Linked DNA regions of Homo sapiens: region 2 is linked to region 1. Evidence: fine-mapped expression QTL. A gene starts in region 1. The other region holds a variant in brackets. All regions are shown on one strand. Distances are from middle to middle.

Region 1 (8,000 bases):
TACTCGATATATATTTATATACACTGGATCCACAGACCTGCCTGTCATCAGGACCAGATGCCCTGGTCCACTGTACAGTCATGCCCGCGACTAGGTTAATTCCTAAGGTGCAGTCATGTGAGGTGTTCAGATGCTGCCTTCCCCGCTTACTCTTCTGGCTTTGCAGAGGTCTGCGTTCCTGTTTAGAAGAACAGGGATAGGTAGGCTGGGGGGCCAGAAGTTTTAGTTCCATTCCAAATAGTCTATTTTTTTTCCCCTGATGGAGGGATTTTTGCCTTCTGATGGGAAAAAAACCCCTAGTTCAAGACCATTCCAAGCCTATTAATACTCTAAATATTAACACTGTGTAGGCTACTAGGAAAATAGGTTATCTCCTGTGTTTTAAATATTGAGATTCATGCAACAAACACCCATGCAGCTCTATTGCATCACTGGTAAATTTCACTGCAGTGTCAGTGTAGCTGGGCCACATCAGTGGGAAAGCAGATGTCTGCAAACTCCAGTAAGAAACCAGACATGTTTTTGTGACCCTGGAGCCTGCAAAAATGGTGAAATCAGAGGCTTAGAGGTCTGTTGGTTTGTTAGCTTCTCCCCATAGGCCTAAGGGAACAAATGTGAAACTTGACAACTCATATTCGGTCATACTAACTGTCCCTCCCCCGGGCTTCCCTCACATCGACACTGCAGAGAAAAAGCAGAATGCAGCATTTTCCGTTATGAAACACAAGCCTCCAGAGCATCTACTTGGCAACTGCAATTCACAAACTCCAGCCTGTGACACAGAAAGTAATTCCAACACACAGGACTGTGTGTTCTTTTCAATGCAAAAATGAGTATGACCTTTTGAACAAACACCAGCTATTTAAAGCTAAGCCATGATTGTGTTCCTCTGTGAAAGGGCAGGTGGGCTCAAATAAGGTGGTGGGATGGTGGGGAGGGGAGTGCATCTCTTGGATGTTGTGTGCATTTCATTAGGAAGGAATGATGGCACTGATATGGTGCACTGTGTATGGGATATGAGGTGGCCTCAACGTGTCTATCTGAAATCCTAGCTTGATAGGTGACTCCCGTCTTTGGAAGTTCATAAGCCGGTGATGAGGATGTGCATGAAAGCCATGATAGATATTCTGTGTTCTAAATCAAAAGTCAAAAGATCAAAAGTCACTTGCACAACTATTGCTTTCCATGCAGAACCAGATACACACTGTAGAACACACTGACTACAATGCAGGCTATTATGCAACATCTGCATTAGTTCCATTGAGCTGTGAGTACGGTAATAGGTTTCAATCAGACATCAGTTAACATTTTGGTAATATTCACATAGTTTGTGTTAGCCAAGGTACAGTTGGCTGTTTTCAAGTTTTCCTCTCTAAAGTCCTCATTACTGTTATTTACACCCTCCTGGATCTCCATGTAATCAGACTTACTAATGGTAGAGGCACTTCTACTTTTCTTTAGGTCAGGGGAGGATGGGATCTTTGGACAGCTTGTCACTTGCAAGTATTGGGCCTGTTCCTCTCCCTCTGTCTCCCGGTGGTAGAAGTAGTTGAAATTGGACACAATGACAGGGACCGGTAAGGCAATAGTTAACACACCTGCAATCGCACATAGGGAACCCACTATCTTTCCCCCAATGGTAGTCGGAACCATGTCTCCATAGCCTACAGTTGTCATGGAGACGACTGCCCACCAGAAGGCATCTGGGATGCTGGGGAACTGGGACTCTCGCTCATCGGCCTCTGCAAAATACACAGCACTAGAGAAAAGGATGACCCCTATGAAGAGAAAGAATATCAGGAGGCCCAATTCTCTCATGCTGGCTTTGAGGGTCTGACCTAGAATCTGGAGACCTTTGGAGTGTCTGGACAACTTGAAAATCCTAAAGACTCTTACCAACCGGATGACACGGAGGATGGCCAGTGACATGGCCTGCTGGCCTTGCTGAGCGTCCTCTGGCTTCTCAGCCAACTCTGTCCCCAGGGTGATGAAGTAGGGGATGATGGCCACAATGTCAATGATGTTCATGATGTTGGTGAAGAAGCCGGCTTTGCTGGGACAGGCAAAGAACCTCACCAAGAATTCAAAGGAGAACCAGATGATGCAGAGTGTCTCTACAATGAAGAAAGGGTCTGTGAAGGAAGTGGACTGCTGGTACCCGATGGTGCTGTTGGAATAGGTGTGGAAGGTCACCCCACTACCATGCATGTCTTCATTCTCATCCCGGAAGATGGGCAATGTTTCCAGACAGAAGCTGACAATTGAGATCAGAATCACCATGACAGACACAATAGCTATAATCCTGGCAGGCCCTGAGCTCTCTGGGTATTCAAAGAGAAGCCACACTTGTCTCTGAAACTCATTTTCAGGCAGAGGACGCTCTTCCTCCTTGATGTAGCCTTCATCTTCCCGAAACATCTCCATCGCTTCTTCTCCCAGCTCATAAAACCGAATTTCTTCAGAGAATATATCTAAGGGCACATTCACAGGTCGCCTCAATCGGCCCCCTGACTGGTAGTAGTACAAAATGGCATCAAAGCTAGGGCGGTTCCGATCGAAAAAGTACTCATTTCGGAGGGGGTCAAAGTACCTCATTCGTTTCTTTGGGTCCCCTAAGAGGGTCTCTGGAAACTGGGCTAAGGTCTTTAGCTGGGTCTCAAACCGCAGCCCTGAGATGTTGATCACCACCCTCTCACAGCACTCGTGGTCTGCCTCTGGGTCATAGGTGTCCTGTGGGTGCCCAGGGAGGGCAGCAGCCTCGTCTGCTGGGTCTCCGGTGGCCACTGTCATAATTGGGACTGAGAGAAGCACCTCACGCTATGCCTTTCAGCTGCCTGGTGGCAGGGAGCTCAGGGTGCTGCTACTGGCCCCAGGAAGCACAGGAGCATTGGCCTGGTCTCCTGCAGGAGAGCCCCGAGAGCTCTCTGAGAGCTGGAGAGACAGCCTCGCTTGGCTGAAAGACAGAGGCAGTTATTGACATGAGGCTACTCAGCATTGGCAGCCTGACCTGGGTTGCCACTTTTTGTCTCCCATCTCTCAGCCAAGAGTTCAGACACATGATCACCACCACCACAACGACAAAGCAAAATTTACTTTCACCTTGTAACTTGTCTGGGGATCAGGGGGAGCAGGTAGCAATCTCTCCAGGAACCTCTGGAATGCCCTGCATTGGGGGAAGGTGGCTGGTACAGGCCCGCTTGTAGCACACAGGCTTCATGGAGCATAACCCCATGCTAATAGGTTAAAAGTGGACCCTCTCCCAGGTGCTGCACTAATGTCTCAGATACTCATACCCAGGGAGGTATTCATGGTTGGGGAGCTTGGGCCTGGGTCTTTCTCATTGGCCTCCACCCCAGTGATTCTACACAAGGCTGTTATTAAATGATAGATTGATTTACCTGACCAGAGACGTGAAGCTCTCTTCCTTGCAGAGCTGATCAGATGCTGCAGGAATCTGAGATGCACCAACAGGCAGCCCAACTCCTCATCACGTCTTCTCACTCGAGCTAGAAATAATGGTGAGTCATTCTGGGCAGAAGGGCAGACTCTGGGTCCTGGAGGTGAGCTCTAGGATTGGGCTGGGCTGGAGGGGCGGTGAGGTGCCTGGCCAGGGGCATGCGGGACTTGAAGACAGCCGAGCATGGGCCTGGAGCCTTTTGAAGGAAGGAGGCAAGATGCAAAGCTCAGCAAAAGCTGGAGTCCTGGCTGTCCTCAGGAGGTGTGACGTTGCCTGGAAAAAAACAGCAGCAAGGTGGAACCAGGGCATTTGAACCAGCTGGTGCCAAGATTTAGGAGGGTCTGGCAGCTTCCCTCATGGGAGGTAACAGGCCCCCATGCCCATCCTCTATTCTGATGCCAGGCCTGAGGACTATCCCTCAGCCTCCTTGCCTCTTCTGGGCAGGCTTCCCATCAGCTTGAAGCATTTTCTCCCAGGGAGCAAGACTCAGGCTTGGCTGGGCCTGCCTTCTCCAGGGGCCTCCCTGGGTTGATCCAGGTTGCTAGTCCCCAGCTGCTCTCAGGAAGGACTCTGGAAGAAGCACTCCTACCCCCACATGTCAGGACACAGCAGCTCCCAAGAGGAGGGCTTAGCTCACTGCAGCCTGTCTACAAGCTCTGACCTCAGCCAGTCCTGGAAAAGAAGCACCCCACCCCCCAGCACACACACTCCTTCAGAGCGCATCTAGGGAGACCCCACACAACAAAGTCTGCACTGTACGAAAACTGGATGAACTTACTCTCCCTCCGGGATCCCTGGGCCGCAGGCCTCCCTCTGAGCCGGGTGGCATTTGAGCTGGGCAGGCGCTCGACCACTGATTTCTCCCCCAAGAGAAAATCCCTCACATCTCCTCGGCAGGGAGCACAGAATAAACGCTCCGCCTGCCTAGCTGCGAGGCGGCTTGGCAGCAGCGAGAGGGGGAGCCTGGAGGAAGCCGGCTTCCGGACTGGCCCCCTGCCGACCCAATCCCGCCGGCCCCAGGGCGGGGAGGGGTCTGGGCCCTCTCCCCATCGCCCCGGGCTCCGGCCGGGATTCCGTTCGGCGCACTCAGCGCTCGCCTCCGCGCAGAGGACCAGACCCTCCCGCTGGCCGCGGCCGCTAGCGCCACCTTAACCCCCTCCTGCCCGCGCGGTCGGCTCCTGCTGCGGGCCCAAGCGCAGTTCAGCTCTTAAGCCCCCGGCGTCCAGCCGAGGGACCGCCGAGGCTCAGTGTCCAACCCAAAATCCCGGAACCTGATCTCTGGGGGTGGGGAGTAGCCTGCGCCAGGCTGCCGCCCCAGATCTCAGCTTCCTTTTAAGCGCGGGGGCTCGGCGGCAGCCCACGGCCCCAGCGAAGGGGAAAGCCCTCTCTGCAGCAAAGCCGTTTGTTATTCTGTGCCGAAGAGGCGAATGCAGCCCGGCCGTCCCAAGTGGTTCAGGTCCTACCAACCCGCGCTATTTACCAGACATGGTTATGCTGCCAGCTGCACTTCCCACCACCCACCAGCTCCTCTCCGTGCCCTCCGCCCCGCGCCACGCAAACCCCAGAGGGTCCCGAGCCCATTCTGTGCACTCTTCTTGAGCAGGGTGCAAGTTCCCCTTGATCTCCCCGGTCTGGGACCTGCCGAGCAGACGGCAGTGGTCGGCAAGGGCTTGCCGCCGCGGACTCAGCCCAAGCCTGCTGCGCTGCAGGCTGCGCCGCCGGGTGCCCCGCAGCCCCTCTGGGCGCCGCAGCCGGGCAGGGAAGGCAGCACGCGCCGCGCAACGCCCCGACACGGATTTACCCTTCCGGATGGGCACCGGGGCCTCCATGTTCCTAGGTTACGGCCAGCGCCGGCAGAACCCCGGCAGCGGGCGGCGGCGGGGTGCGGGCGGCCAGCCGGGAGCCGGCTCTGCAGTCCCGCGGGCGGCGCGTACGGAGCTCCCGGCCGCCGCCCGCAGCCGCACCGCGCCACGCAGCGCCGCACCTGGCTCGACGGCGAACTCGAATTAAAGGGGCCGGCGGGGGCCGGGGCCGGGGCCGGGGCGACAAGCTGCCCTCCGCCGCCACCGAGCTCGTCACCTCGTTGGGCCCCCGGGCCTCAGCCCCCGCCCCGCGAGGAAAACATTCTTTGGCAGAGCCCGACTTACTAACCAGAACCTCCAGGAGAGCTCAGCTGGGTGCTGCCGGGCCGGGGAGATGGGGGAGGGCAGAAGTTGAGGGGCACTGGTGAGAGGCTCCTGCCAACGTAATGAAGTAGGCAAGGAGGAGATAATCAATAGCAGCTACCCCAGGCCCACAGCGGGATCCAGCCCCGGGAGAGACGTGTTGCTATTATTGTGGTGCCTCCAGACAGGATCTGCAGACCCCTTTCTTGCCCTTTCTCCCGCCAGCGCGACCCCTTCTCCAGATCGGCTTCCCACCTCCCTGTTACCCAGCAAAGATTTGGCTTCGCAGGGAAATGCAGCAGGTGCGGTCCGCAGTGTGGCAGAAACTCTTCTGCTGTGTTCGCCCCCACCGAGAGGAGCCGCAGGAACAGGCAGCACTGCAGGGCTGGCCCTCTCCACTCCCCGACTCCCTCCCCCAGGGCCCGGGCAGGGAAGGCTGGGGGACACGCCGCTGCCCTTGGGAATGGTCAGCTACTCACAAAACGGGCCCTCTGGCAGAACTTGCAAAGCCAGGTGGCCCACAGGGCTCTGAACTTAGGAGTGCAGCTTACAGCACCCTAGGTGGGCAGACGAGGATGCCCTTTGCTTTCGGGAAATGTGTGTGGGAGGCACAGCCTACTTTCTGCCTAGATAGGGCATCCGAGAAGGTCCAGGGTGCTTTTGGGAGGCAGACGACAGCCTCAAGCCCCTGCTAGTTCTGTTCTCCAGGTCCCTGTCAGGGTCACCTAGACAGGTGTGCCAAACAGTGGTGGTTCCTTGAGATAAGACTGCGGTAGACACGGAGCTCTGGATTCAGATGGGCTCTAGCACCAGGAAGTCCCCACTGGGCCCTCCCCCCTACCCTCCGGCCGGGAAACCCTCCTCTCTATGCGTGTACCTCGTGGGGAGAGCCCTGAAAGCCCATGAAGCGGGACTCCGGATTCTGGCGTTTCATCGTGGTAGTCTGTGAGGTGTGGTTGAAGACTGGGAGCCTGCCTAGAGCTGCAGGGGGTGGTCTGGGAGGGCAGTGACCTCCGTGGGCCCAAAGGATGACAGATGACTATAGAGAAGGGCTGGTATGGTTTAGAGCACCTTGAACCTGGCCTGTTAGTGTCCCAGTCAGTGAACGGCTTGGGTGTTTTGGAGGCAGTCAGATGGAAACGTAACTCCCTAACAGTTACTAGATAAGTTATTTCACTTCTCTGGGCACCAGTGCCCTCCTCTGAAAAATCAGGATGCCCCTAAGGGTGTGGTGAGGTTTTAATTGTTGAATGAGTTTAGCATCCAGCAGACACTGAATGCATGATGATTTCGCTGCTCTGCTTCCTTGTGAAACTCTCCTCATAGCTCTTAGCTTCCAGCTTAGCTCTGGGGTGTTTCTCTAGGCTCCCAATCACCAGGTCCTTGTTGCCCCATTCCCTCTGCTTCCCAGATTGCCCCGCCCTTTACTTTCCTTGAGATCTCACCATTCCCACCCCTCTACCAAATTGACCTCCAGTTCCCTTCCCTATATACTCCTTCTGAAAGCCTCCCCTGACCAGCACCAAGGGGCTCTGTTTCTCCTATTTGGCACACTGGGTTCTCGTGTCATTTAAAGTCAGATAATCCTGTGTGGCCAAAGTCAGATACTCTATCCATCTGATCATATGTATACATTTCCTTTGCCTTCCTTCTTGAAAACAGAAGCTGTGGACAGAGAAAAGCCCTTGAAGGAAAATCAATCGTCATAATTGGTGACATGGGCTTACCATGTGTCAGACCCTGTGCTAAGCACTTCTTACCCAGGGCAACATTTAATTCTCACAGCCCTAGAAGTCAATGTATACATTAGTACCATTTCATTGGAAAGGAAATGGAGGCAGTGAGAGGTGAAATCACCTGCCTGAGGTTAATAAATGGTGACTCTAGGACTGGAATTAGGTCTTTGTGATTCTAGGACATGTGCCCTTAGCCCCCACACCACACTGTGCAGGTGGAATGAGCAGCTCTTGAATTTCATTTCCCTCTTTGAGATCTTCCTCTGACCTCTGCTTCTATTTTGTGACTTGGCCTCAGGGGTATGTTGTCCTGTCTCTATCCTTTAAACTTAAATGTGAACAATGACAAAAAAAGAAATTAACTAAAGAAGGGGGAAAAAAAAGAACCATCATAACAGTTGTTTAGGCACATTTCAGGGCTTCTGCCCTGAAAAGTGTCTGTCAGTACCTTGGTTTGGCAGTGCTGTATAGGAAAAGAACACAGGCCGTATTCCCGGCACTAACACTTGCTAGCTGTATGAACTTGAGCAAGTTACTGACACTCTCTGAGCCTCCTACTGTTCGTTTCCTAGTTGGTCGAATGGGAGAGCAAAGCTACTTTACAGGGTAGTAAGGACAAAATTAGCTATAAAGAATGGACAG
Region 2 (15,515 bases), 37 kb after region 1:
GAGGAACAAAGCCCAGGCCTGTTCTTCATCACTTAGCACCAGCTGGGATCCCTTGTTGCCAGGCTGGCAGCTGTGAGGGATCACTTGGCCACCAGGAAGACTTCCCAGCTGGGACTGTTCTGAAGATTTGTGCCAGAGAAACTACATCTGTGAGTCACTGCTCAGGGGAAAACCCAGCTGCTCGGCTCAGCTCCAGCCCCAGTGGCCCCGGGGAAGGACCAGAAGGCAGAGCGAGAATAAAAGATAGGCTGCTTTGCTTTTCTCAGTTTCCATAGCAGGTTACCGTATTTGCAGTTCTTCATTTCATGAGGGAAGTTGAGAGTGGGACTGGAATCAAAAGAGGTACTCAGATGGTGAAGCCCATAGCTGTTGGGTGTGGAGGTTTTGGCTAAGCCACCAGGGATACTTCTCTGACCCTCTGGATCCTTACTTTGACTCATCGCCCTTTTTTTTTTTTTTTTTCTGATCCACAGGTGGCTACAGCCAGGTTCATAGTCTGGCACATGGCATTTTCTGGACAGTGAGAATCAGGAAATGGGGGTGAATCTTAGAGTGGGTCTGATGAATCGTGGGAAAATCTCTCAACATTGAGACAGAGATACTGGAAGGAGCTTGAGATTTGTTTTATAAGAAGAGGGATTCTTGGTGTCATGGCTGTCTTCTCAGAAGGGAAGATCGGTCAGGTGTGGGCCTGAAAACCATGGGTGTTAAAGGGCTGACCCTGGAACAGTCCCTGCAAGGATAGGGGTGGACCATCAGGACAATGATGGGAAAGTGCTGGTGTTTGGGATGTCACTTCCCACAAATTGACAATCACTGCAGAGGCCAAGAAGCCTCCCACTGGGTTTGGGGGGTCAGTATCTCTTCAATTAAACTAAGGCAAATTCTTAGCTGCCAAGGAGGCCAGGTGACTTTGGGTTCTAGTCTCAGATGAGTCCTAGTGGGCTAGAAGCCTGCTTTGCTCTGCTTGACACAGACCAGACATGATGGGTAGGACTTAGTTCCACAGTGGATGTGGGGAGTCCTGTGAGCTGGTGGGAGTGTGTCTGGAGCGTGCCTAGAATCATGGGGCCTGCATGGTAAAGGTCCTGCAACCAAGCCAAAATGGGGATGCTTATGGGGCTGGGGATGTTTAGCCTAGAAAAGGGCATAGGAGGCTAGTGTTTTTTGAATCCCTGTTGCTCTAGATGACAGAACTGAGGCCAATAGATGGAGATAATAGGAAGAAAAATTGTGACTCACCAGAGATAAAGCTAGCTGATATTTTAAGACAGTAAAGTCTAATGGTTAAGATCTTGGACTCTAGAGTAGAGTCACAATGGGCACCACCCTGAATCCTGCTCACAGATGTGGGTCTGCAACCCACTTGGTGTTGGCCTGCTCTGCCCTGGGATTTAAAAAACTTGCATCAGTCATCAGCACAAATTGGGAGATTATGCTTACAAATCTATATGGATAGCCTCTTTTTAAAAATCGGAGGATCTGATCACCCAAGTTCCTACTCTCTCATGTAACAATAAATGGTACGTGGGTGGCAGCTGCCTCTTCTGAATAAAGCAGATGCACTGTGGTTTTTCACAAGTGCTACTTCCTCCACCTTTCTTACATTTGCACAGTTTCGCTGATTCCCAGGTGTCTGCAGGTATTGTAGTTTGCAACCCTTTTCTAGTTAAGAACCCAGGGTTTGTAACCTGGCTTTGCCAATTTTAAGTTATTGTGACCTTAAAGAAAGGAGTCAATTTCTCTAAGCCACAGTTTCCTTATCTGAATATGAGAATAATAATAATACTTACCATGAGTTAAAGAACTCCTGGAAAATGGCTGGCAAGGAGGGAAGCACACCATGAGCGCTCACCAACTCTTAGCTGGTGAAATGCTGTCCAACAGTGGAGGAGGTAGCCTTGGGAGCTCTATCACCAATGCTGGGCCTGCAGAGGGGCTGCATGACCTGGTGGTAGCCAGGACTACAGAGGAGGGACAGCCACCAAGAACTCTGAAATAAGTGGGCCATGCAGCAGTACTCCTTGGGCCCTTCCCAATGACCAAGTCAAAGGTGTTGGTGTAGAGCTTCTCTTGATGCTCATTAAAATCAAATTTGAGGCCAGGTGTGGTAGCTCATGTCTGTAATCCCAGTGCTTTGGGAGACCAAGGCAGGCAGATTGCTTGAGCCCAGGAGTTTGAGACCAGCTTGTGCAACATGGCAAAACCCTGTCTCCACAAAAAAACAAACAAACAAACAAAAAAAAACCCCAAAAAAACAACAACCAAAAAAACCCCAAATTAGCCAGGCATGGTGGTCCATGCCTGTATTCCCAGCTTCTTGGGAGGCTGAGGTGGGAGGATTACCTGAGCCCAGGGAGGTCGAGACTGCAGTGAACCGTGATGGCACTTCTGCACTCCAGTGTGGGCAACACACTGTCTCAAAAATAAGTAAAATATTTTGTGTCTCAAAAATAAGTAAAATAAAATAAAAATAAAATAAAATTAGATTTGATCTGGAAAGAAATTTTGTAGAAAAGAATGTGTCACCTGGAGTAACCTACATCCAGAGTAACCTACATCCACTTGGGAGGCTGCAGTGTGCTCAGAGTGAGTTGGAGTTCCAGCCCTAGCTGATGGTGGGTGGGAGCATTCCCCTGCCCCTTCCTGCTCTGCTGCAGGGCTCCTTGGAGCTCACTGGCAGCATGTCCTCCCTTGGTAGCTGGATAGGCCCTTCAGTAGGCTCTGCAGGCTGAGCAGCCATGGGAGACAGCTAAACCCATACCCATACTTTGGCTCTGTGACAGAGTGGTCCAGCACTTCAGGACCTGCCTGGGTCCTGGGTCTGCCCCTGGGTGGGGCCTGGGTGGTATGGGTTCCCTTCGGGTGGTCTGGACTCAGCCTGATGAGACAGCCTTTGGTGGCTGGTTTCCATTGGCCCCTGAGAAGCCCTCTGCTGGAGCGGCATGGAGTGACTGAGAGAGTCAGTTCTGTGTCTTGAACTGTCATGTATTTTCTGGTTCTGGAAGCAGAATCTGCTTTATGTGCTTGAGATGCTGAGCCAAGGGCAGACACATCCTTATTCTCAGAGAGCCACTACAGGAGGGGAAGCAGGGGTCTACTGGCCGTGAGCACAGCAGTACATGCCGCATGTCTGCCAGACAGGCTGGGAAAAAGCTTGGGGGAGAGGGAGGGCTCACCAGGCCTGGAGGCTGCAGGAAGCCAGCCTCCTGGCCTCTGAGGATGGTGCTATGACACCAGTGCTGAGGACTGGTGGGTGCAGTGGGGTGAGTTGAATGAGCTGGGAATTCATGCTCTGAATCTATTTCCCCTGCTGCTTCTCCACTCCTCTATTCTCCCTCCCCTCTCCTCTTCGGCATTCACTGTAGCCTTGATACTTAAAATATCATCACAGCCAGTGAGCAGCTGTCAATGACCGGTCCCCTTACCTCAGCACTAGGTGGTGCTTGTATCTCCCTTCTGGCTGGCTGAGGAAGCTGGGCAGCAGGAGGCAGATGCTGGTTCAGAGCCCCTCTTCTTGCAGAATCATTAGGCAAAGCTCCCAGCAGCCTGACTTATGCAGATGTCAGAGCTCAG[G/T]CTTTGGTTCTTGTGCTTGAGCTAATTGGCATCTTTGGAGAAGCTTTTCAGCCTCTGGCCTGTGGGCACCTGTCCCTGAGGGGTGGCCCATCATTCAGCCTTGGTCTTTGCATTAGGCCTGTATAGCTACCGAGTTTTCACCCCAAGCCATGTCTGATGGCCTTTGGCTGGAATCTGGGATGGTAGAAAGCTGTTGAGACAGTTGAGTCTAAATTAAATATTAGATCTGGGTGGGTTTCACATATTTCATAGCATAACTTTGTTGGGATATTTATTTGCTCTTCTCCTGGTTCTCGCAATTTAATAATTGAGTAAAATCCGTTTTGACATTCAGCACTGATTTGCTTACATTCTGCTGAAGTGCACCTGCTCTGTGAGAGAGTGGGTGTGTGTCAGGAGGCTGGGAGAAGTGGGGGCAGACAACAGAAGCTTCAAATGAGAGACATGGCTTGGGCACTGACTTTATATGTGAAAATGTGATTCAGCCTTAAACTTGTGGGTCGCTTGCTAGATGACAAGCGCTAGATCAGACTCCAGTGGGAGAGTAAAATCATGGAAGATACCGTCTTCTTCCAGGAAGCTTGTGTTGGGGAAATAACGTCAAACACAACAACACCAGCTAAAGAGCAGAGTGCAAAGACAGGTGGCTCTCCCCTAATTCCACTGCACATACACTCACAATCAGATACACATATGTACACATTAGGTCAAACCTGTGAAGACCAAACCAGGCTCTGGGTTTTGGGATTGGGGTCATCAAGACCTACAAGTAAAATCTCCTCTTTTCAAATCTGCATTTCCTTATAGCAAAATGGTGGGAGCATAGGCCCTGGAGCCAGGGGCCTGCCTGAGAATCTGGTTCCCTCCATACTAGCTGTTTATGCTTAGACATGCCACTTAACCTGTCTGTGCTTCAGTTTCCTCATCTGTAAAATGGGAATTTCAGTGTCTATTTCACAAGTTTGCTGAGAGGTTTAAAGAAGTTAAAACATGTATGCGCTTCAAACAGTGTCTGGCACATGGGCAGTGCTCAGTAGCTATGACTATTGTTCCAAAGATCTGACCACTTTTCACTGCTTGCAGAGGTAAACGGTAGATGTTCAGACCATAAGGGAAAAACAGAGGCCCATTTTTAAGATGAGAAAGTGGGACAAGTAATAGAATATCTGCCTGGTTTCAGGAGAGGAGAGGGTCCTGGAAACTTGGTTCTTCTTACACAGCTGCTGAGCCCCAACTGAATTCAATTCATCAAAAGTATAATGAGGATCTGCTGTGCACAAGGTATGTAAGTGTGGTGGGGAAACAGGTGCTTCAAGTATGGAGCCCATCCTCTACCTCAGGAGGTGGAACAGACAGATAAAAACAAGGAGTAGAACATGATAAATATCACAAATACTCAGGAAGACCCTAAGTTGTAAGAAGAGAGGAAAGTCCTTTTGAGTGTTGGAGAAGAAGATATCAGGGACAGCATACATCAGAACAGAAAGGCAGAAAAGCTTGGCATATATTTGAGAACAGGACAGAGTCTATTTTGGTTGGAGGAAGCTTGGGTGAGAAAGGGTGTTGGGCTATCACTGGAAAGTGTGGGATGCAAAGGCAGGGTGAGTTGGCACTTCATCAACAGATAATGGAAGGCCACTGAAGGCTTTCTGAACAGGAGTAGAATCTTTTTATATTTTAAAACTAGTAGACTACAGTAAGTGAGGAAGATGGAGGGATGAAAGACGACAACTTTTGTTCATTTGTTTGTTTGTTTTGCCTGGGTGACTATCTGCATGATGGTATCTGCTAGAGATAGGGAAGTCAGAAGAAAGGGCCAAATCACTGGAGAAAGAAAATGCTTTACTTGGACAGTCTGGATGGGAAGTTCCAGTGAGTCATCCTGGTGGCAATGACTGGCAGATTGTTGGAAATGGAGGAGCTAAAGCGAGAGAGGCTAAGAATAGAGATATGGATTTGGGAGTTAGTGGCAAATAGAGTTAAACTATGGGAATGTATATGATGGCCTGAGAAGAAATTATAGGAGAAGTAAGAAGGACTAAGGGCTGAGCCTGGGAGACAGGACATGGAGGGGAAAGGCAGCTGAGAGGAGCCTTGAAGAAGACTGAAGAGGAATAATTGCTACTGAGGAGAAGCAAGGCAGTTCAGTGTGATGGATGCCAAAAGATGGAGAAGTCAAGGAGGTAAGACCCAAGGAAAGGCTACTTTTGGGCTGCTGGTGACCTGGAAGAGCCATCTGCATAGAGTTCTGGGATGGGCAGAGTGAGAGAGCATGGTAGAGCAAAGGGTTGTGGGAAGACCTGAGAGGCTTTGTAGAATTAAGGGAAGAGATGAGATACCAAGCGCATTCAGTCCTGCCTATCTTCCTAATGCATGAATTAAGATCAGAAAAGAGAACTAGAGAAAGAGGCTAGATGGCTGCGAGAAGCCAGAATATTAAGAAGTTGGTCCAGGTGAGGTGGCTCACGCCTGTAATCCCAGCACTTTGGGAAGCCGAGGCGGGCAGATCACAAACTCACGAGTTGGAGACCAGCCTGGCTAACATGGTGAAACTCTGTCTCTACTAAAAATACAAAAATTAGCTGGACGTGGTGGCGGGCTCCTGTAATCCCAGCTACTCGTGAGGCTGAGGCAGGAGAATCATTTGAACCTGGGAGGTGGAGGTTGGAGTGTGCCAAGATGGTGCCATTGCATTCCAGCCTGGGTGACAGGGCGAGATACTGTCTCAAAAAAAAAAAAAAAAAAAAAAAGAAAGAAAGAAAAAAGAAAAAAAGAAATTGGTATTAGTAGCAGAAATGCGGAGTGTGAGAGGGTGTATATAAATGGATCAGTAAGAAAACAAAGATTGAGACTGTTTATAAAATAGAATTGCCTGATTATGAACCAAATATGAGTCAGTTAAAATATGTCAATATAAAACATTTATTCTTAAGGAAAACAATTTAGACAATATCAAATATATTTAAAATGTTGGGTAGGCAATGGTTATGAAGGAGGAGAAGCACGCACTTCTCCAACTGCACCATCACTAGCCACACGACTTCCTGTGAGTTATGACCCCTCTGCTTCACATTCTCATCGTATAATGGGGATAGTAACACTTTTCAAGGTTTTTGCATTGTTGTAAGGACTGAGTGAGCTATTGAGGAATCTGAATGCAAAGGAGTTATTATCCCAGTGCCTTGTGCATTGTGAGTAGGTGCTGAGTAAGTATTAACTATCATCACTATTAGCTTTTCTCGGCTGTCGGTAGTGCAGTCTTGGAGGGAACAGTTTGGCATTCTGGGCCCTGAGATTTAGCTGGATGGATGCTCAAATACTTGCATTGAGTGGATAAATGCAACTGAAGTAGAAGTGAAAGATCGTGTGTGACTAAACAAAAGAGAAAAGGGAAGAGAAAGGAGAGGTTTAGTGCATTTGTGAGTGTGTGTGTGTGTGTGTGTGTGTGTGTGTGTGTGTGTAGGGAGGGAAGATGGTAATAATGCTAGGAGAAAGGCAGCATTTCATGACTGGCAGAAATGGGTTCCATGGTACCACTGCATGGTCGACTTAAATACAGGAAACCCTGCAACTTGTGGTTTCACAATTCTCAGTTGTGAACATTGGTGCTCTTTATGAAACCCTTCAGTCAAAACTGCAAATATACAGTCCAGAACCACAGATTTCTTTAATTTTGACTTTGTAGCTAAGTCATCCTAATCAGGGACTCTCTATCCTACCCACACCCAAACTCAGTAAACACAAAGAATACTGAGAATATCAGACCAAAATATTTGGTGTACAGTTCGGATTCATGTTCTGTCTTCTCCAAGTCTCAATTTTCTTCTCTGTGATGATCGCCTAATGTCTACCTTTTTGAATGTCTATGGAGATGTATTTAAGTACTTGGTAACCTGGAATGTGCTAAATAGAGGTTATCTTTTTTTTTTTTGAGATGGAGTCTCGCTCTGTCACCCAGGCTGGAGTGCAATGGCACTATGTTGGCTCACTGCAACCTCTGCCTCCCGGGTTCAAGTGATTCTCCTGCCTCAGCCTCCCAAGTAGCTGGGATTATAGGCACCCACCATCATGCCTGGCTAATTTTTGTATTTTTGTAGAGATGGAATTTCACCATGACCAAGCTGGTCTTAAACTCCTGACCTCAGGTGATTCACTTGCCTTGGCCTCCCAAAGTGCTGGGATTACAGGTGTGAGCCATGGTGCCCGGCCAGAGGTTATCTTTTTATACTAGTTTTCTTTAATATTTTATTTTGGATTTGTTCTATGTGAATTCACCTGAAGGTGATTTGAACCTGTTTACATTGTAATCTGTAACACATTTTGGGCAATAAACTTCATATGCTGACTACTTAGCTCCTTTCATTCATTTTAAATTTACTTCCCAAGTGTTCAGCTTCAGGGAATGCTCTTCAGGAACAACGTCCCTGGATCTGGTGATCAAGTGGATCACCAGAACCTCACCCAGAACCTCACCCAGAACCTTTGATCTCATTTTTCATTTTCTCCCAGTCTGAGGAGGCCCTGACTCTGCCCAGTGAAGCTGCTCTCTCTCTGGCAATGCCCATCCCATCAGCCATGATGTGAGCGTTCTTGAGCTCTGCCCTGTGCATGAGGTTTGTCCAGCTGGGGGAGGGAACTAGAGTCAACACTGTTTCCCAGATGTAGGCAATATGGTTGCTGCTCTGGCACGGTAATCTGTAGGTTCTATGGGACATTTTTAAATCCCAGCCTGCTTTCTCTTTAACTAGCTTCTCTTCCTATCCCTTTAAAGCTTTAAAAATTACCCCAAATGTCTGCGAGTAGCCTCCACACAATCCAATATATTTGATGCATTACAAAGTCCTTAAACATGACTCCTGGATGATCTTTTCTTTATCTACCCTCCATTAACAGAAATGACATAGAACTGCTTATGTGTATTTACATGGATCTCTCTCACCTCCTCCCTCACCTCCCACCCCACCTCACCCCCCACCCCCAAATACTGAAGTGTTAATGGGGATAGTGCATTGTTTAAGCTGTCACAATGTGTGATCAAGACAGACTGAAAGTCCTCTAAACCTTCAATAGTAATTCCATTCTCCAGGAGAGATGGAAAATTCTTGCATGCAGGAGATATTAGTTGCTCTGTTTCAGTCTGAATTGTGCACAGAGTTTCCTGGGCTACTGTAAGGTGGAGTAATCCCAGATTGCCGGGGCTGTTCCATGCATCCCATGGGATAATGTGTAATGATCAGTAACCTGTAAAGTGCTGAATTAAGGTTATCCTTTTATCCTAGTTTCCTTTAATAATATATTTTGAATTTGTAGCATGTGAATTAATCTAATGTCTTGTAAATGGGTGGATTTCTGGTGTGTCCTGATCTTTCTCGATCTGCCTGGAGTCAATCAACATTCAGGAGTGAGGAGTGGGATGAAGAATGGAGATTCTAGAACCAATATCTAAAAATATGTATGGAGGTGGGGGCAGGGAGGGAGTTCTTGGGAGGCTACCAGGAGGATTCTTGCTTCCATATTCATTTATCCATAAATCATTTGTTGGGGGCTGTGTTGTTTGGTGGCCTCTGTGGCTGAGCCATGAGGTAAAGCTGATGACAAAGATTTCACTCTGCCAGTCTTCTTGCTCTCTGAAGAAAGGCATCCCCTCTTCCCTTGGGAGGCCCACCCTCTGCCTCTTAGCTCAGCACTCAGTTTGAGACTAGGCTGTCTGAGCTGTCTCATTCCGTTTGTGATCATGTGCCATTCCGACTTCCTCTATTTCCTCTTCTTTATTTACTATTCTGTAGTCTTCCCCACGCTTTCAAAACTGAAGGAATGGTCGAGTTGCCATGGCAACCCTCTGCCCCCACCTCTTTTTCCTTTCTCAACAATTTTTCTACATTTTAATAAAATTACTATTTATAGTGCACAAAGCTGCATTCCCCTCCACTGCAGCTCTGCAAGGGAGGTTTTCTGTCTGACCAGAATACTAATAACTAAAACATGGCTTTCCAGTGAGGAAGTGAGGAAGCCCTCCAGAGCAATCACTTTGGGAGACATATGTGTTCTTTAGGATATTGTTTAAGATGTATGAAGGGCTTGGCCTGCATATATGAAGAACCTCAGTTGACAGGGCTGAAACCCCATCCTTGTAAAATATACCATATAAATGTTGAATATGGCATTCCGGGCACTTTGGGAGGCTGAGGCGGGTGGATCACTTGAGGTCAGGAGTCCAAGACCAGCCTGGGCAACATGGTGAAACCCCATCTCTACTAAAAATACAAAAAAATTTAGCTGGGCGCAGTGGCGTGTCCCTGTAATCCCAGCTACTTGGGAGGCTGAGGCAGGAGAATTGCTTGAGCCTGGGAGGCGGAGAGTACAGTGAGTTGAGATTGCTCCATTGCACTCCAGCCTGGGTGATAGAGTAAGAGCCTGGGTGACAGAGCAAGATTCTGTCTCAAAAACAAAAACAAACATAGAACTGATCTTTTAGGGTTGTTTTAAGGATCCAATAAATTAATATAGACAAGGACTTAAAAGAGTGTCTGTCGTCATTTGTTATAGGCATTTGAATTATTATTTTAGTAGCTTATTAACATCCATGAAGACTATTCCAAATGTGAGGTTTTACCAAGGTTTTATAGCTGTTGAGGGATAGGCCCGGTGGAGGAGGTTAGGAGGGGTTATTTTGTATGGAATGAAACATTTAGACTACATTGAAGAGTAGAATGAAGGAGTAGCTTTTAAATTCTTAGTGTTCAATAATGAAAATATTCATTCTTTATCATGTTTTGGGACTTTCTAAAAACAAATTTTATATAGGAGCAAGGCAGATTATTTTAGCTTAATTTGAACTTACATTGTTTATTCATTCAAAGGGCTCACAGGTGGAAAATCTCTGAGTGAGGTTACACAGTAATGATCTGGTAGTAGTGCTACTTAAACTTTCATGTGCATATAAATCACCTGGGAAGTTTATTACACTTCAGATTCTAATTCAGTGAGTTGGGGGTGGAGCCTGAGATTCTACATTTCTATCAAGCTCTTAGATGCTGCTGCTGCTGCTGGTCCCTGAGGACCATTGAGTAGCAAGGTTTAAGGTTTTTGGGGCCAGCTCTTCCTAAAGACACTTTTTAAACAAAGGTGTGGGTTGAGTGGAAGGGGCTCTCCAATTTCTTAGTTATTACCCAATTGGAATTACCCAATACTAATAGAACTGGGCCCTCATGAGAGAATGAGGTTAAGAATCACCAGTGGAAGCCAGAAGACTTCTTTTTTCTGAGATTTTAACAAGAGAAGTCAGGAAAGGCTATATACTTTTTTTATTTTTATTTTTATTATTTTGGCCAGAAAGCTCAGAGGTGCCTGACTGCATTGTATTCAGGCTCTACTCTTGCTTTATAAGTCAAATGTGATTACTCACTTAATTTTGTTCTTGAAACATTTTTAGAACCCAGTAAAACTCATCATTTTCCTGAATGAGAGTTAAGGCTTTTTTTTTTGGGTGGTGATTTATTCAGAATATTTTGAAGACATGATTGTGGGACTAAGATCCAAGTGAAACTGAGCCAAAAGAAGACGTAATTATTAAAACATTAACTTGAAATTTTAACTCCTGTTTGAAAGCATTGCTTCCCTCTCTAAATGTCTGTCAATATCTTATTTAAGTCTTTTTTTTTAAACAAAGCAAAACAAAACCTTTGACATGTTTTTAAGAACTAACAATAATGGTGATATACAACAGCTGCAGTCTCACTTCCGAATGGAGGAATTAAAGGCTCATGTTAGAAGATGAGAGGTTTAGCTACTTTATAGGCTTAATCAGCCAGTGACTCACAATTACGAGTCATGTGATTTAAAAATCTCAGTGACTGTGAGCTTCTCTTTGGAGGACTGGGCAAACTGTGAAGAAATATGTGAAATTAGAGAAAGAAATGTGAAGTAGACTTCCTCTTTAAATTCTGGATTAGCCATGACTCAAAGAGCATGGTAGGACATCTGTATATGCTCATTTTATTAGAAAGGCCATCACAATTGGATTTAGACTTCTATTCGTGTAATCCATCTTCTTTTTGCAGGCAGGATTATCTCTAGGCTAGTACTGAAAAATTGTCACTTCTATTAGATTATTAAGCAAGGTCTGTATCATCTCTCAAAAAGACCCACAGATCAAGATATGTTGACATCAGTGGAGGGGGAATTGCCCTTTTAGTGGCACCTTCAGCCTTTGCAGATGCCAATTCAATCAACCAGTAACAACTCAGATGGGAGATGGGAGAGTGTGGCTAAGATGGACAAGAATACACTTTCAAAATGCAAAGCTTTTCTGCAGCATTAGGGGTCATGGAGATGTTAAAAGACTTTTCAAATAGCAACTACACAATAGGATTCCAGATTAAAGGCTCCTCAGTTGACAGATAACCAGTGGGAAAAGATGAAATGAGAATTATCTGAGAATTGCTATCATAACCTATCCTTAAAACAGAAGAGCTTTGTTCCTTTTAAGCTCATGGGAGCATGTTATAGTAGCAGCCTTATAATTTGTCACTGAATAAATCACCAACACCAAGTTACATTAATTATATCTTACTCTTTAGCTCCCTAAATTTCTCCTTAATAGACCTAAAGGAATTATGATGAATAAGGATTGAGACCATTTGCAACCTTTGGAGTTAGTGGTTTGCTTTCCAATAATTGACATTTTTATCTATTAATGCAGTTAGGAAAATTCATGTTTTCAGTTTTGGTAAGAATTTTGCCTAGAATTATCAGCAATGAAAATCTTACTCTAAGTTAGTCAATTGTTCTTGATGATTATAATGATCTAAAGTTTGATGCCCACAGCCTTGTGTATGTTAATTTCCAGTAGATTCCGTAAGAATGAGAGAATGTGTGTATGTTTTTGAACTGGAAGACATTCTGACCGGGATCTACAGAGATATAAATGGGCAAATCCAGTACAGTTTAAACACAGGAGTTCTTATCTGAGTGGAATACTTCAGAGGGTTGGAGATTGAAGTAGCCCTCTGATGAAGTCTGGAAACTACTGGAAATGTTTAAATACTGTGGTTTAAAATTACACTTGAGATAAAATCTGATTTCCTGTTTCTAAGTCAAAAAGCTTACAATAAGGACCTTGAAGTTTCCTGGAATAATAAACAACACTTCTAAAACGGCAACTGGATGAGGTAAGTGTGGTTGACTAGAAAGTACAGATTAATTTTCTCAACACTACTCATGTTTCAAAATTAAGAGGGAAAATTTCCAAGAGAGAGACATATTTGAGGTCATGTTGAACCCAAAATAGTTTTAAGTGCTGCAATAGTTTGAAACGTTTTTAAGGGTTTTCCACTGCTGAGACAATTAGCTAGTTTCCTCAGACTGCATTTGTTTTACCAATCTAGTGTTGAGAGCCTCTTAACAGTGGTATATCAATGTGCAACATTTCTTGCAACTTATAAAAGATAAGTAGACCGGCACCGGCTACAAGGAGCTAGAAACCCTTCCCCATCTCATTGGCCTCGCTTAGTCCTTCCTACTTAGTCATCAAGCCTAAATCCCTCTCTTATTTCCTGAAGGCCCCTGAGCTAAGTTAATTTTATCTTCCTTCTTTCTCATAGTTCCCTGAGCCTACCTGGTATAGAACTTGTCACTGTTCCATAATCATAGGTGTTCTCATTTCCCACTATTTCTATGAGATATTTGAGGATAGAAGTTACATCTTCTCAGTGTCTTATTTATTCAACAAATGTTTATTGAGCATCCGCTATATACCAAGCGCTGTGAATACAGAGATTACAAGGACACAGAGTCAGCTCTCAAGTTACTCACAGTTTTATAAAAGAAACAAAAGAGTAGATGGTTATATTTTGTGTCAAGTTCTTTGATGGAGGGCTCTTGATATAAAATATCAGATAGATACTTAACTGAAATCTTCCTGGAGAAAATGTAAGTCTTGGAAGATAAGTAGCTATCATCCAGCTGAGTAGAAGAACAATGTGGGTGAGTGAAGTGGGGAAGAAAAATAAAGTTGTGATGATATTTCTGGGCAGAGAGATCAGCAAATGTGAAGGTATATGGGGGGGCATACTGTATATAAGGGATTCACAGTAATTCAGGGTGACTGGAGCAGGGAGGACATACTGGAGAGTGATAATTGATGAAATTAGAAAGGTAGACAGAAGCTGGACCGTGAAGGTCCTTGGATGTCATACTAAAAGGTTTAGGCTTTATTCTAAAAGGATAAAGGAGGAGTCATTGAAGTACTTTAGCTGTGAGAGTTATTAGCATATTTGTGACTCAGAGATCACTTCGTCTGCAGTATGAAAAATTCACAAGACTACTCTAGTAACATAGGCAAGAAATCATAAGATACAAAAATAATTCAGAGGTGAAGAAGGCAGCTAAAGTTGCATCAAGAATTTAATAGCTGTGAAGAGTGAGGGAGAAGTTTGAGATTAGTTGGTCCCCAGATTTCCAAACAGTAGCATTAAGGAGAGGTGGTTTGATTACCAAAGACAAGAAATACAGTTGGGATGACATTGCTGAGTGTGGGAAATGAGTTGTTCTGTCTTGGACATGTTGGGTTTGAGGTATCATGAATAGTTTCGAGACCATCCAAAAGGATATTTATGGCAAAGAGATTGGTACACAAAAGATAAGTTGTCTGTGTGGGTCAGAAGACTCCATCAAGCTGGCTAATGCAATCATGGCTTGTTGGAGGGTTTAGAAGAATCTCATAGAACCCAGTGACAGGGAGTAGAGTTGGGCCTCCCATGTGTTGGAAAACAGTCTGTAGCTACTTTTGATCTTTCACTGGGGCAGTGTGATTGTTTTGCTTTGTGTTTCATTCTTCTCCTTGCTTCTCTGCTAGGCTTAGTTACTACTTCACCAGAATATAAATTACATGGACTTAGGATTGTTATGATGCTGACTTTGGCTCAACTTGCTAAAACATCATAGCTCTTCGCCTAATTGTTTCTACTTCTAACTCCCCAAGTTTCAATCAAAATTCCAAGGAGAGAGAATCACCTGGCCCAGTTGAGTTAGGTGACCACCTGTGGACAGAGAATGGGCTGACATGGGTTTTAGGATTGTCCCTTCTAGATTATGGGTTGGCAGGTTCAAAGGTAAACAGGGCAGAAATGATTGGCTGAGAAGGTGACTGGTACCTGAAATATGGTAAGACTAGCACTCAGGTTGTAGCTCTGGGCTGGAGATAAAAATCTGTGGAAGTAGTTAAAACTAGGATATTGGATGAGATTACCTAGGGAAAGTGTTGACTCAGAAAAAGTGAGGCTTGAGATCAGAATCTTGGGGAGCAGCAGTATTTAAAAAGTGATAAGAGAAAGAAAAGTCAGTGAAGGTGACTGAGAGAAAATGTCACAAAAGCCAAGAAGGAGGGAGGGATCAACAGTGTCAAATTCTACAGAGTTGGTGAGGTTGACAATTGATGTATGAGAAAGAAACTAGTATTAAGGAAATGTTCAGTGTAGAAGTGGAGACCAAAGCCAGATTACAGAGGAATAACACTGTAGCCGAAAGTCAAATAAATGAGGGGTCAGGAAGTAGAGACAACTTCTTATTAAGAAGTTTGGCTTTGAGTGGAAGGGGGCAAATAGAGCTAACAATGGTCAAGGAAACATATTCACCGATCATAGATTCTGAGGTGGGGACACACTGAGGATAAGGAAAAGGCAGATGTTATTTAATACAGTCAAGTTCTGGAGGAGGTTGAACAGGATGGACTGGAGCTCCAGAGATTGGGAAAACTTTTCCACTGAAGTGAGAAGGAGAAATACTCGAATATTTTTGAAAGAATAAATGAATAGACAAAGGGAATGATGGTTGACTCAGTCTGAAGAGCTTGGATTTTTATTTATCTTGGTGTCTCACTTTAAGGTAAGGGGATTGGATCTTGAGGCTTGCTGAGGCAGGACTAGGCTCGCCAATGTGAA

The links. PIP is the estimated chance that this variant, and not a neighbour inherited with it, causes the effect.
Region 2: its variant is the best candidate, but not a certain one, in a credible set for the expression of KCNA2 in whole blood (TOPMed, PIP 0.63).

What each region holds. Positions count from the first base shown.
Region 1 is chr1:110,601,993-110,609,992 of GRCh38, forward strand. It overlaps KCNA2 (potassium voltage-gated channel subfamily A member 2), which reads right to left and starts at 4,366. Exons shown (of 3, transcript NM_004974.4): 1 at 4,236-4,366; 2 at 3,399-3,730; 3 at 1-2,953. The coding sequence starts at 2,790. The coding sequence ends at 1,291.
Region 2 is chr1:110,634,767-110,650,281 of GRCh38, forward strand. No RefSeq gene overlaps it. Among named protein-coding and RNA genes, the nearest start is that of KCNA3, 32 kb to the right of the region's middle. RefSeq lists an enhancer at 1-156. The variant G/T (reference allele first, on the strand shown) is at 3,577.